Homo sapiens: one gene and its partner. The protein of the gene in region 2 purifies or fractionates together with the protein of the main gene of each other region. This does not show direct contact. Each region holds a gene or a part of one and is shown on either strand. Other genes may lie near its edges.

What was found. The genes of interacting proteins can lie anywhere in the genome.
Region 1: the proteins of CIART (region 2) and TPM2 purify together in Homo sapiens (affinity purification with mass spectrometry; 2 studies listed by BioGRID and IntAct, with this or other methods). This does not show direct contact.

Annotation. Positions count from the first base shown.
Region 1 is NC_000009.12:35,682,432-35,687,384, reverse strand, and holds the end of TPM2 (tropomyosin beta chain), read left to right. Parts: intron 1-1,604; coding exon 1,605-1,738; intron 1,739-1,833; coding exon 1,834-1,951; intron 1,952-2,045; coding exon 2,046-2,116; intron 2,117-2,245; coding exon of another isoform or gene 2,246-2,577; coding exon 2,578-2,653; intron 2,654-2,834; coding exon 2,835-2,897; intron 2,898-3,069; coding exon 3,070-3,139; intron 3,140-4,143; coding exon 4,144-4,226; 3' UTR 4,227-4,453; downstream 4,454-4,953. UniProt on the Homo sapiens protein: Binds to actin filaments in muscle and non-muscle cells. Plays a central role, in association with the troponin complex, in the calcium dependent regulation of vertebrate striated muscle contraction.
Region 2 is NC_000001.11:150,277,751-150,286,051, forward strand, and holds the start of CIART (circadian-associated transcriptional repressor), read left to right. Parts: upstream 1-4,803; 5' UTR 4,804-5,517; coding exon 5,518-5,883; intron 5,884-6,054; coding exon 6,055-6,130; intron 6,131-6,675; coding exon 6,676-6,754; intron 6,755-6,846; coding exon 6,847-6,958; intron 6,959-8,301. Other genes in the region: uncharacterized protein LOC124904414, read right to left, coding at 3,911-4,266; uncharacterized protein C1orf54 isoform a precursor, read left to right, coding at 1,890-1,988. UniProt on the Homo sapiens protein: Transcriptional repressor which forms a negative regulatory component of the circadian clock and acts independently of the circadian transcriptional repressors: CRY1, CRY2 and BHLHE41.

The DNA of each region.
Region 1 (4,953 bases), on a different chromosome or scaffold from region 2:
GGGATAACCTAATATTTATGGAATGTGGACCCTGTGCAGGCAATGTACTCAGTGCTTTCTGCATGTTATTTTACAATTTCCCAAACTTGGCTTATCATCAGAATCACTCGGGGGCTTTAAAAAAAAAAGAGAAGATTCCCAAGCCCCCGCCCTACACATCCCAATTCAGTGGATCTAGCATGGAGTAAGAGAACCTGTTTAGTTTTATGAGTCTCACCGAAGGTCCTGTTGATTAACTGAGTATTAAAAGCAGTGGATTATCTCAGAACAGCCTTAAGAAGGAGGAACTGTTATTGTTAACTCCAACTTGTGAAGGAGGAAACTGAAGCTTAGAGAGGCTAAATAAGTTGCCCACAGTTACACAGGTGTTGAGTGGCTGAGCCGTGGCTCAAAGACAATCTGACTCAGAGCCGATGCTCTTAACACGTGGCTGCCCTGCTCCTCTCATTTTCCTTTACTGGCGCTCGCCTTGCTCTGCCCTTTTTCTCAGTGTTTGACCAGTTTTTATGGATTTTTTCCAAAACCTCCATGGTTTTGCCTCCTACTGCAAGCCCAGGGGCTGAGTAGACATCCCTCACACTGCCCCTGCATTGCCCCCAGCTCTCTGCTGGCCTTGGCAGGGAGCCCCTTGCTACAGCCATGGGTATTCCTTATAGGCCTGCCTCTTGGGCTTCTTGCTGGGAGTCTGCCTTACAGCTGATGACAGATGACATCACTGAACTTGATACTTTTTTTTTTTTTTTTTTTTGAGATGGGATCTTGCTATGTTTCCCAGGCAGGGCTCCTGGGGTCAAGCTGAACTCCCGCCTTAGCCTTCGGAGTAGCTGGGATGACAGGCATGCACCACCATGCCCAGTATCACTGAGCTTGATTCTGTGACGGGCTATTCTTAGCAGCAGTGATGTCTGGTTGGCCTGATTCTCCTCCCATCCCCTTACCTGGGCCAGGCTTTGCTGTGTAGGAATCAGAGCTGCATCAGACCTGGCCCCAGCACTTGAAGTGCTCCCACAGGGAACAGGAGGACTTGTGTGCAGGTGACCTTTGGGAGACTAACTGTGCACAGTGCAGGAGAGGCCCTGCAGCAGGGGAGCGGAGCTTGTCAAGCAAGGAATGCATGTATTTTTTTGTTTTTTTGAGATGGAGTTTCGTTCTTTTTACCCAGGCTGGAGTGCAGTGGCACGACCTCAGCTCACTGCAACCTCCGCCTCCTGGGTTCAAGTGATTCTTGTGCCTCAGCCTCCCAAGTAGCTGGGATTACAGGCATGCGCCACCATGCCTGGCTAATTTTTTATTTTTAATAGAGACAGAGTTTCACCATGTTGGCCAGGCTGCTCTCAAACTCCTCACCTCAGGTGATCCACCCGCCTCGGCCTCCCAGAGTGCGGGGATTACAGGCGTGAGCCACCATGCCCGGCCTGAATGCACATTTTTTACTGGAGCACAGTCTGGGCAGAAGATGATTGGTTGGGGAAAAATCACATAGAATGTCTAGAAACCAGGAAGCCTCAGTTCTTTCTGAGAAGAATCTCGCCATCCTCTGGAGCCTCTCTGATCCTTATCCAAGGCTAACAAGGCCTTTTTGACCCCTGACCTCTGACCCACAGGCTGAGGCAGATGTGGCCTCCCTGAACCGCCGCATTCAGCTGGTTGAGGAGGAGCTGGACCGGGCCCAGGAGCGCCTGGCTACAGCCCTGCAGAAGCTGGAGGAGGCCGAGAAGGCGGCTGATGAGAGCGAGAGGTGGTCAGGGGCCTCGGGGAGGATGGTCCGGGAGGGAGAAGGGAGCCTGTCTCTGCTGGTCCTGACCCTACGCTCACCCTCTCCCTGCCTTTCAGAGGAATGAAGGTCATCGAAAACCGGGCCATGAAGGATGAGGAGAAGATGGAACTGCAGGAGATGCAGCTGAAGGAGGCCAAGCACATCGCTGAGGATTCAGACCGCAAATATGAAGAGGTGACAGCCTTGCCCCTCTGCCTGCTCGCTGCCCAGCCTGCAACATGCCCAGTCCTTCTCCACTGATCTACCCTCTCTTTCTCACTCCCCACAGGTGGCCAGGAAGCTGGTGATCCTGGAAGGAGAGCTGGAGCGCTCGGAGGAGAGGGCTGAGGTGGCCGAGAGGTAAAGATACCCGGGGGTGACAAGTGAGCCCATTGGCCCTGGGGCCTTCCACACAGTGGGAAGGTAGCATCCTAGGCTTGGGGCTGTAGGGACAGGCCCTGTTCTCTGACCCCTGCCCGCTGCCCCCAGCCGAGCCAGACAGCTGGAGGAGGAACTTCGAACCATGGACCAGGCCCTCAAGTCCCTGATGGCCTCAGAGGAGGAGGTAGTGACCCCTCTGAACCTTTCTGGGCAATGGCGCCTTCTCTCAGCTCACCTTCCCTCCGTCTCAGCACCGCAGGCTGCTCTTTCTCAGCTGCTGGGGATCAGGAAGGGCCTGGGGCTTCTGAGCCCTGCCTGCTGTCACTCTCACAACTTTGCTCTTCTCTTCTCTCCTCCACCCGTCCCCTGCTGTGCCATCTCCACTGTCTGGCTTCGCTGTGCCCTCACACCCTGCCCCCCCCGCCACACACCCCCTGCAGTAAATGTGGGGACCTAGAGGAGGAGCTGAAAATTGTTACCAACAACTTGAAATCCCTGGAGGCCCAGGCGGACAAGGTAGAGGGGAGCAGAGGGGCAGTGAGGATGGGGTCCCACAGGGGAGGGAGGTGAGGGGCCCAAGGCAGGGAGGGGCTGGGTGTTCAACGGAGGCAAGATGACCAGGAGCCTACGGGGTACAATGGAGAAATGAAGGATCTGTGGTAGCGCTGTACTGATGGCGTGTGTGTGTCCCCAAAAGTATTCCACCAAAGAAGATAAATATGAAGAGGAGATCAAACTGTTGGAGGAGAAGCTGAAGGAGGTGAGAGTCCTCTTCCAGTTCCCAGTCTCCCCTCAAGCCACCCTAATCCTTGCCAGAGACGGCCTGTGGCAGGACACTTGAGGGTTGGGATGGACAAGAAGCTTGACTTAGGCAGTAGTCTGTGGGAGGGCCTAATTCTTTGCCATTTCTCCCATCCTGCCTTTACCCCCAGGCTGAGACCCGAGCAGAGTTTGCCGAGAGGTCTGTGGCAAAGTTGGAGAAAACCATCGATGACCTAGAAGGTAAAAGAAGCCTTTATAAGTAGGTCCACACCTGCCGTGATTATCAGTCTGTCCTGTACCTTCTCATCCCATTTTATTTGCCACCAATAAACTAGGGTTGGGCCACCTAGGACCCTACCAACTCCCCAACTCTGTGGGCCATGTCTACAATTCAAGTAATTGTAGCTGCCCACGGCGCAACAACTCCAGTGCTTCTCAAACTTCAGCATGCATGAGAATCACTGGGAGAGTTTTAAAAACAGATTCCTTGACTCTGCCCCAAAGAGATTGCTGACTTTGGGCTGGAGGATTTACATTTCTAGCTAGTTCTCTGGTACTGCCAATGCTGCTGGTCCTCATGCCACACTCTGAGTGGCACCCTTATAGACAATTCCGTCCCCGAGTGTAACGCAGTAGAGTTCTAGTGCAGAGACTGGCTTATTAACTAGAGAGCTGTTGGACTGAACATCTAGGTCTGCATGACAGCACTAATAGAAAACACTATTTTAAGCTAGATTTGACAAAAGCAAACATCCAGATATTTGTGAGTCTGTGGCTATTTCTATTGTTAATGATGATGTGGCTAAAGTTGCCTTTCCTTTTTATTCTGTGATAACCCTTTCACTTTCCCACTTCTCTCGCTTCCAGCCTTCTCAGGCAAGCTCCAATTTTACCTCCAGCTTTAGGAGGTTTGCCCTTTCTGGCTCCAGCACCCTCCCTCTCCCCTCTAAGCAAGCACTCCTGCTTGTCGAGAGCATTGTACACACAGCTCCCTGGAGAGGCAGGAGCTGCCATGGGTAGAGCCAATTTGGGGTACAGAGAAGGACAGAAAAGAGATGGGGTAGAGATGGGGAGAAGGAGTTCCTGACAGCTGTCCAGCCTGTTCCCTGGCCTCCCTCTCTCACTCTGTCTTTGTGTACCTCTGATTCTGTTTTTCTTTCCATTGCTCTCTCTCCTTCCTTTCCTCTTTCCCTCCACTCCCTTTCCCACACTCCCACCTGGTCCCCTCCCTGGACCCCCCCCAGATGAAGTCTATGCCCAGAAGATGAAGTACAAGGCCATTAGCGAGGAACTGGACAACGCACTCAATGACATCACCTCCCTCTGAGCCCCACGCCAGCGTGGCCACCTCAGCTCTCTTCTCTCCTCTCCTTTCCATTCTCTCTATGGGGAGGGGAGCAGGCAGGAGGAGCAGAAATTGCCAACATTGCACAGCCAGGCTGGGAGCAGCCTAGGGAGAGCCCCCATCATGCCCACCACCCACTCTGGCACTGGCTTCATCCTTTACCTATCCCCTTCCACCCTCCTTTGCTGCTTAATAAATTCTGAACTTGGTCTCCATGCTGTTTTCCTGCCCTCCAGAGAGCACCTCTATCGCCACCACGGAGCACTGGTTCACTCCTGACACCCTGGCACTTACTGACACCCCCAGCCCCTGCACTGAGCCCACCCACAAAACACCATGGCCCACGCTGAAACCCCTCTGCACAGGCACTCCCTGGCTGTCGCTCTCTGATTCACCACTGCATGTGGGCACGTGTGGCCCCATCAAACCATGACCGCCTCTGGTGCCAATCCCTGACCTCAGAGCACTTAGCTGGGGTTCCAGGATCAAACAGAGTGACTGGAAAGGAAGTAGGGTGGTGAGGTGCAGGACAGGGGCAAGAAGGTTGCAAAAGGTCTGGAATGGAGCTTGGAAAAATGTTGGATATCAGCAACATGGGGCTTTCACTGCAGCAGCAGGTCTGTTTTCTACCTCAAGTCTGTCTGTCTGGCCCTTCCTTTCCTGGCGCAGTCTTTGTCTTACCTTCTGTCTCCAACTTCCTTAAACCTTC
Region 2 (8,301 bases):
CAAGGAGCCTAGTAAGTTCTTCATTATGGTAAAAACACGATGAAAAGTGATATTTTAGAAAAACCGGCCAGGTGTGGTGGCTCACGACTGTAATCTCAGCACTTTGGGAGGCTGAAGTGAGCTGATCACCTGAAGTCGGGAGTTCGAGACCAGCCTGACCAACATGGAGAAACCCTGTCTATAGTAAAAATACAGAATTAGCTGGGTGTGGTGGCACATGCCTGTAATCCCAGCTACCTGGGAGGCTGAGGCAGGAGAATCGCTTGAACCTGGGAGGCGGAGGTTGCAGTGAGCCGAAATCGCGCTATTGCACTCCAGCCTGGGAAACAAGAGTGAAACTCCATCTCAAAAAAAGAAAAAGAAAAACCACTCTTCAGGTTGTATGCAGGATGTAAATAATTTAGTGGAAAGCAACTCATGAGATTTGCGTTGTTCCAGAAACAATCTGTACTCTGGCATTATGAATGGAGAGGAGAAAAATAAATATTATGAAGAAAATACCTTGCTTGAGTGATAATTTTATATGAAGTATAAATGAGGAGTGAGTTAAAATAACTCATGGGTTTTAAACATGGATGTCTGGGAAAATGGTTGACCAAAGTGGGAACTATGGGAGGCCAGAGTGGTTTAGGACAGAAGTTATTAATTTGGTAATGGCCAAGCTGAGTTTATGGTGACAGCCCTATGAGGGTGTCCTAAAGGTCACTGAACTAGATCAGGGCTAGAGTTCTAAGTGCAAAGTCACAGATATGAAAGTAAATGAGCTCAACAGAGCCAGTACACACAAGCTCAGAAGGCCAGTGACTGTGCCTGTAGTGAGTGGGAGGAAGAGAAATTAATGAATGGAATGGAGAAGGATTTGACTGGAGAAGTAGGCAGATAGCCAAGTTTGTATTATAGAGTCTAGAAGAGAAAGTTTAATATAATCCATCAAAAGCTACCAAGAGGCCAAGGAGGAGGAGGTCACTTGTAACTCTCAAGAAAGTAGTTTTAACTGAGTGCTTGGAGAAAAGCTAGATTTTTGTGGAGTTAAAGAGTGAGTACATTATGAGGAAAGGGAGGTGAGTACAGACCAACCATCTAAAAAATCTGGTAATGAAAAAGAGAAGCAACGGCTGGAAAGGGGAATAGGACCAAAGAGCAGCCTGCATATAGTTGAGCACAGATGAAAGAAGCCAGTAAGAATGGAAGTGAAAGATTGACAATAAGGGCAGTTAATTCTTTTTGAAGTATACAGTAGGCTGGGCGCAGTGGCTCACGCCTGTAATCCCAGCACTTTGGGAGCTGAGGTGGGCGGATCACCTGAGGTCAGGAGTTTGAGACCAGCCTGGCCAACATGGCAAAACTGTGTCTCTACTAAAAATACAAAAATTAGCCAGGCATGGTGGCGGGTGCCTGTAATCTCAGCTACTTGGGAGGCAGGCAGGAGAACTGTTTGAACCCTGGAGGTAGAGGTTACAGCGAGCTGAGATTGCACCACTGCATTCCAGCCTGGTGGATATAAAAATAATAATAAATAAACAAACAAATAAATAAAATATAGAGTAGACTCTCTTTAGATTGTAAATTCCTTGAGGACAGGAATCTTGTCTTATTCATATTTATGTCCCTTTCTATAGCACCTAGCACAGTGACTAGTATAGTATAATGCACATAATAGATAAAAAATAGAAACAATTGAATTGAATTGGCCTCCCTGGTATGGTCAGGGATAGCTGAAAGGCACAGAAGGACTCCTTACAGTGATGGGGAAGGATGGATCTTTCTCTAAGCCCAAAGGAAAGGAAGACAGAGGTTGTTGTAAAGAGGTGGCAGTCTTTCTGGAGGGGGACAGAGAAGTGGTAGGAGGAATGACACCAGCCTACTGTGTGGGGATGTCGGTATTTTAGCAGAGTCCAGATCTGAACGATGCCGTGTCCAGTTTGCGAAGTCCTATTCCCCTCCTCCTGTCGTGTGCCTTTGTTCAGGTGGGGATGTATTTCATGTAGAAGGTAAGAGTGCAGCCACTGGCTTTGGGGGAGTCTGTGAAATAATATTTTTTAACTTCCCACACTAAACCGAAGTAATTCTTACCAGTATCTCTAGTTAGTGTTTCCAGCCTGGTCAATTATCAGCCACTGAAGGAAGAGATTTAGGCTCATCCCTATAATCCCAGCACTTTGGGATGGTGACGTGGGAGGATCGCTTGAGCCCAGGAGTTCCAGACCAGGCTGAGCAACATAGTTTAAGTCCAGGCTGAGCAACAGACCTTGTCTCTACAAAAAAATTAAAAATAAATAAATAAGAACTCCTCTACAAGACGTTAAAAAAATTAAAAATAAAAATTAGTTGGGTGTGGTAGCACAGGCCTGCAGTCCCAGCTATTGGGGGGGATGGGGTGGAAGGATCCCTTAAGCCCAAGAATTGGAGGCTGCAGTGAGCCATGATCTGGCCACTGTACTGTTGCCACTGGGCAACACAGTGAGACTGTCTCAAAAAATAACAAGTAAAATGAAAGAAGAGGGATCACATTTAGAAAAATCTTCTTATTCAGTCTTAAAGAAGTTTAGGAGATGCTGAGGCAGACTTTTGTGATGAGTCATTACTTTTTCTGAACTAAGAGGACTTCAGGATCTCCTAGAGCAGATAGATGATGGGGTTGGGGGAATACTTCTCCAAGCTTCCAAAATGTCTGAACAATCAAAGCTAGTTCCAGCCTGGCCACGTTTCAAGTCATGGCGAATGCCAGAGGGCAAAGTGGGTGGGTCTTACAACCTGGTAGAGTCAAGAGGCAAAGTTCAGAGGCAGAACGGATGGCGGTTCTCTGATGTATGGCAGGGCGGTGGGAGAGAAGGGAAGAGAAAGCCGTATTATAGGAAAAGAATTTTTAAATTGGGATGCTAAATAACCATTGATCATAGAGAGATTCAGCAGGAGGTGAAAGGACTGTGGAGGAGAGGGGTACACACACATCTTTCCCAGGAGCTATCACAGAGCAATCCCAGCTCAGAATATCTGGGGAGTTTCCATAGAGTGTGGGGGGCATGAAGGGGTTTCTCGGGTCTCCTGACTCCTTTTATTTTCTTTCTTTCTCTGCTTTTTTAGGTGGAAGAAGGCTGCTATGACTCTTTGGATGGGAGTCTGGCAAGAGGAAATTGGAAGATAAAATAAATAATAAGTGAAATAATCTGGTTACCATCTACTCCTTCATGAGTCTGTTCTAAAGTCACAACTAAAGAGAGCGCCAGGATTTAGAGGCAGCAAGCGTAGATTGGAAGGGGAGGTGGGTGACAATTGAATTAGAGGGCATTATGGACTGAATAAACCTGCAGTTTGGAGAAGACTGGAGAAGGGCACCCACAGACAACAGGTTTATTCACAGTCCATATTGGTAATTCTCTTGTTTTATTTTATTAAGTATGGTGTTGAAACAGTGTGCTTGGGGAAACGAGGTTGAGGTTTTAGAATCTTTTTTTCTTTTTATAAGAATAAGCACATTGTTAAAACATAAGGTAAAATATCAAAAACTACTTAGAATAGACTTAAAATATTCACACCTACCCACCCCTACCCACACCTCTGTCCAACAATGTGCCTTTTGCAGTTGGTAATTATGGCAGGGACAAACTCACTTAAATTTTTTTTTAATTCGCTATCCTCGGGACCCTAATTAGAATTGGGCTGCCCCCTTGCGGTCTCTCCGACGTCCTATCTTCAACCAGCTCACAGTCCTTGGGCCCTGCTCTCCTCTCCATTGTACTCTCAAAATGCAAGGCGCAACGACAATAGTAACGTCCCAGTTACTTCTGAGACTCTCTAAACTCTGGACTTGCCTCCCTCCCCTCCTTCAAAGTCTTTCGAATCTTCTCCAGCGGACAAATGAAGGGACTGAAGCTGGACAAAACCATAACCTAGGAGATCAGGGACCTACCCCATTCTGTTCCCCGTGCTTGGAATCAGATAATTTAGGACGCCGGGCCCGAGAAGCCTGGATAAAAAAGTCAGGAAAAACTGAGTTTCGTTTTGACCTCTAGCGTCGTGGCGGGCTGGCATCTGAGCTGGTAACGTGCGTGGTAGGTTATGTAAGAAAAGGGATGGAGGAGCCGCCCCAGCGGGAGCCAGAAAGGACGCGGTGTTCTCGGTTGCAATCCCCACCCTCCTCACCCAGCAGGGCAGGAGGCACCCAACTTGGAGGAGAAAGGGGTGGGGGAGGTGAAACAGAGACCGGAGAGTCACGAGGGCTGGGCCGCCGAGAGCAGGAGAATATACCGTGTCACACACCTCCATTCTCTCACACACGTTGCAGACACAAATCACTGACGGTTTCCACGTGCTGCGCTCGTGAGCGGAGGTGTTCAAAGAGGGGGCAGATGAGTTACTTCCCGAGACGGAACCGGGGGTCCCACGTCCGCCGCCTTCAGTAGCACAACCAATCTCTGAACACTCAAACCGCGCATCTCTGGCGCATCACCATCCTATTTAAGGCCACGGGCTCCGCCCTTTTCCTCCCCTCCCTTCTTTTCCACTCTTTTTCCATCCTCCTCCTTTTCTCATCACCGGGTCCTCTCCAGCAGCCGCATGTAGGGGAGGAGCACGGAATGCTTCCCTTACAGCCAATCATCACCTGGCTGCCTCTCTACTGGCTGAGCCCCTTTGTACTGTAGCAAATGGGCTATGGACTTCAGTAACTAGAGTCACGTGTTACCGGCGACACAACCAATGAGGGCGCGAGATCTGTGTAAGCAGGGGGAGGCACGTGCCGGGCCGCACGTGTCTGGGAGGGGGGGGAAGGGGCGGGGCCCACTGAGAGAGGCGGAGGTGGGTAGATAGACCCGGAGAGACGGCGAAGGAGCTGGAAACCGAGCCAGGGCTGAGCCGGCTGACAACAGGTAAGGAGATTCGGAGGACAAAGCGAGCTGTTAGGGAGTATTTGGGAGTGGATTTGGGGGCTGAATGCAGATCTTGGTATTGGGAGGGTTTGCATCACGTGGCAGGTGCGAGCCCAGAGAGACCGGCGCAGGGATCCTGATCTTGAAAGATTGGGAGAGGGCAGGAGGCCAGTCTCTATGGGGGCGGTTCCCGTAGGATCACCAGGTGGGTTCGCGTGCCCAGATTGACTGCTTGTGGGTGGCATGGCCTCAGGTGGAGAGGCTTGCTGCGGACTCAGGCTGGCGAATAGCCCTGGCGAACAACGGGCGGAGGGGAAGGTGTCTTTCAAGTCGGTATTTACTCTGAACTGAGGGAAGAAAAGAACGGAGGCCGCGTCAGACCGAGAGCTGCTCTGCGGCGGCCAGAGAGGGAATCCCAAGCTCTTAATGGGCGGGGGTGGGGGTAGAAATGTCTTTTTCTATTGTGTTTGAGACCGGTAATATTGGGGAGGGGGAGAACAAGTATTATCCCACGCAGTACACCCCAATCTCCCAGTTCATTTCCTAATCCTTAAACTCTGGTTTCAAACTCCCTCGCTTTGCTCTTCAGTTGCAGGTTCCGATCTTTGGGTACTCCAGGAGCTGTTCTATAGCCCCTGCTTCTGGACCTATGGATTCTCCATCTAGCGTTTCTTCCTATTCCTCCTACTCTCTCTCTTCGTCTTTTCCCACCTCCCCAGTGAACAGTGACTTTGGCTTCCCCTCTGATAGTGAGAGGGAGGACAAGGGGGCCCATGGGCCCAGGCCAGACACTGTTGGGCAGAGGGGAGGTTCACGGCCCAGCCCGGGTCCTATCCGCTGCAGGCATCGATCGAAGGTTTCCGGTAACCAGCATACACCATCTCATCCGAAACAGCGGGGTTCGGCTTCTCCTATGGCAGGATCTGGGGCGAAAAGATCAAGAGATGGTGAACTGGAGACCAGTCTAAACACCCAAGGTTGTACCACAGAGGGAGACCTGCTGTTTGCCCAGAAGGTAAGAGAAAGCAGGTGAAAGGAGATTCTCCTGGAGTGCCTTAGCACCCAGCTGGTTGATAAGGACCCTGTGAGGACAGTATTGACTCCCAGATTTGGAGGTGAAGGAAGAGCCACTGCTGGTGTGGGCAGTTTTTTGTCTTCTTACAGCCTTTGTCCTATTTTCCTACAGTGTAAAGAACTCCAAGGATTTATACCTCCTCTCACAGACCTACTCAATGGGCTGAAGATGGGTCGTTTTGAGAGAGGTAATCTTATTGTTGCATTCATTTGGGCTAGGTTCATTTCTCTTTCTCTTTCCCTCTTTTGACGTGTATTTCTCTGAAGTTCTTGTTTGGGGCCTATATTACTCCTTTTTTGCTACTATGACTTTATTATTATTATTATTATTATTATTATTTTGAGACGGAGTTTTGCTCTTGTTGCCCAGGCTGGAGTGCAATGGCGCGATCTCGGCTCACTGCAACTTCCACCTCCTGGGTTCAAGCGATTCTCCTGCCTCAGCCTCCCCAGTCGCTGGGATTACAGGCGCCCACCACCATGCCCAGCTAATTTTTGTTATTTTTAGTAGAGATGGGGTTTCGCTATGTTGGCCAGGCTGGTCTCAAACTCCTGACCTCAGGTGATCCACCCACCTCAGCCTCCCAAAGTGCTGGGATTACAGGCGTAAGCCACCTTGCCTGGCCCGACTTAATTTTTTTAGATCAATCAATTTTAACCCCCTTCTGTTCTTCCTTTACCTGACTACATGCTTGAATCTCAATCCTTAATCTCTCTCTGTCCCTGTCCCCAGGATTAAGCAGTTTTCAGCAGAGTGTGGCAATGGACAGGATCCAGCGTATTGTAGGTGTTTTGCAGAAGCCACAGATGGGGTAAGTCCCGCTGGTTCTTTGCTTGGGTCTTCATAAAAAGGAGATTTCTCCAATCCTGTTGCTGGTTTTTTAAAGCAACGTCATTTTCACAGGGAACGTTACCTAGGAACCTTGCTACAGGTAGAAGGGATGTTAAAGACTTGGTTTCCACAAATAGCTGCCCAGAAGTCATCATTGGGTGGTGGCAAGCATCAGCTGACCAAGGTAAGAACTTAAGAACACGAGGAAGAGGTGGGAAAATAGCCAAGAAAATGAAATGTGCATGCAGAAATGGCCCCTTTTGCCATTTTCTTTTGAGTCTTTTCTTCAAGTTTCTTTTCAGGGAAGGAAATTCCTAAACTTTCTGCATTGTCTTGATTCCTACATGTTTTGTTGTTGTTGTTGTTGTTGTTGTTTTGTTTGAATCACTGGGAGGAACTCCATGAAGTTTAATCCTATCCCTCATGCCACAGCTTATCTGCTTTCTGCGTAGATACAAAAGGCTTTTTACCTGGCCAAATGATTCATGCGGGAATACACCTCAGCTTCTCTCTGCAAACTCTTTTTTCCCTACTGCCCCCAAACCCTTCCCTTCTCCTTCTTTTCATTTCTGCCCACGTATCCTTGTGCCAAACCCTTTGACAGTTTTTGAGTCTACACTGGGTTTCAAGGACTGGTCATAAGAGGTACCTCACTGGAAGTAGGGGAGGGGGGCACCAATAGCAGCAGTGTTGATAGATTCTTAGACCTGGTATAGAAGTGACCTATTTTCAGCCGGGAGCGGTGGCTCACACCTGTAATCCCAGCACTTTGAGAGGCCAAGGCGGGTGGATCATGAGGTCAGGAGTTCGAGACCAGCCTGGCCAAGATGGTGAAACCCCGTCTTTACTAAAAATACAAAAATTTGCCAGGCATGGTGGCGCACGCCTGTAGTCTCAGCTACTCGGGAGGCTGAGGCAGGAGAATTGCTCGAACCCGGGAGGCAGAGGTTGCGGTGAGCCGAGATCGTGCCATTGCACTCCAGCCTGGGAGACAAGAGCGAAACTCCATCTAAAAAAAAAAAAAAGTGACCTATTTTCTGTCCTCAAATAATAGGGTATGTAGAGGGCATTCAAATGACGGAGAAGGAGAGTCTCCTGTAGATAATCACCAGTCCTAATTTTCAATCAGCCATGGTTATTATTGCTGTGACTAATCTATTAAAAAATAAGTAGGCCAGGCACAGTGGCTCACTGTAATCTTAGCACTTTGGGAGGCCAAAGCAGGAGGATTGCTTGAGCCCAGGAGTTTGAGACCAGCCTGGGCAACATGGTGAAGGCTGCTATCTACAAAAAATACAAAAAGTAGGTGGGCATGGTGGCGTGCACCTGTAGTCCCAGCTGAGGCTGGGTGGGAGGCTGAGGTGGGAGGATCTCTTGAGCTTGGGAGGTCGAGGCTGCAGTAAGCCATGATTGTGCCAGCCTCGTTGACAGAGTGAGACCCTGTCTCAAATATAAAATTTTAAAAAAACAGTAGGAGGATCTTGCCTGAATATTAATTTACACTTCTTAAAGAACTCAAGATAGAAT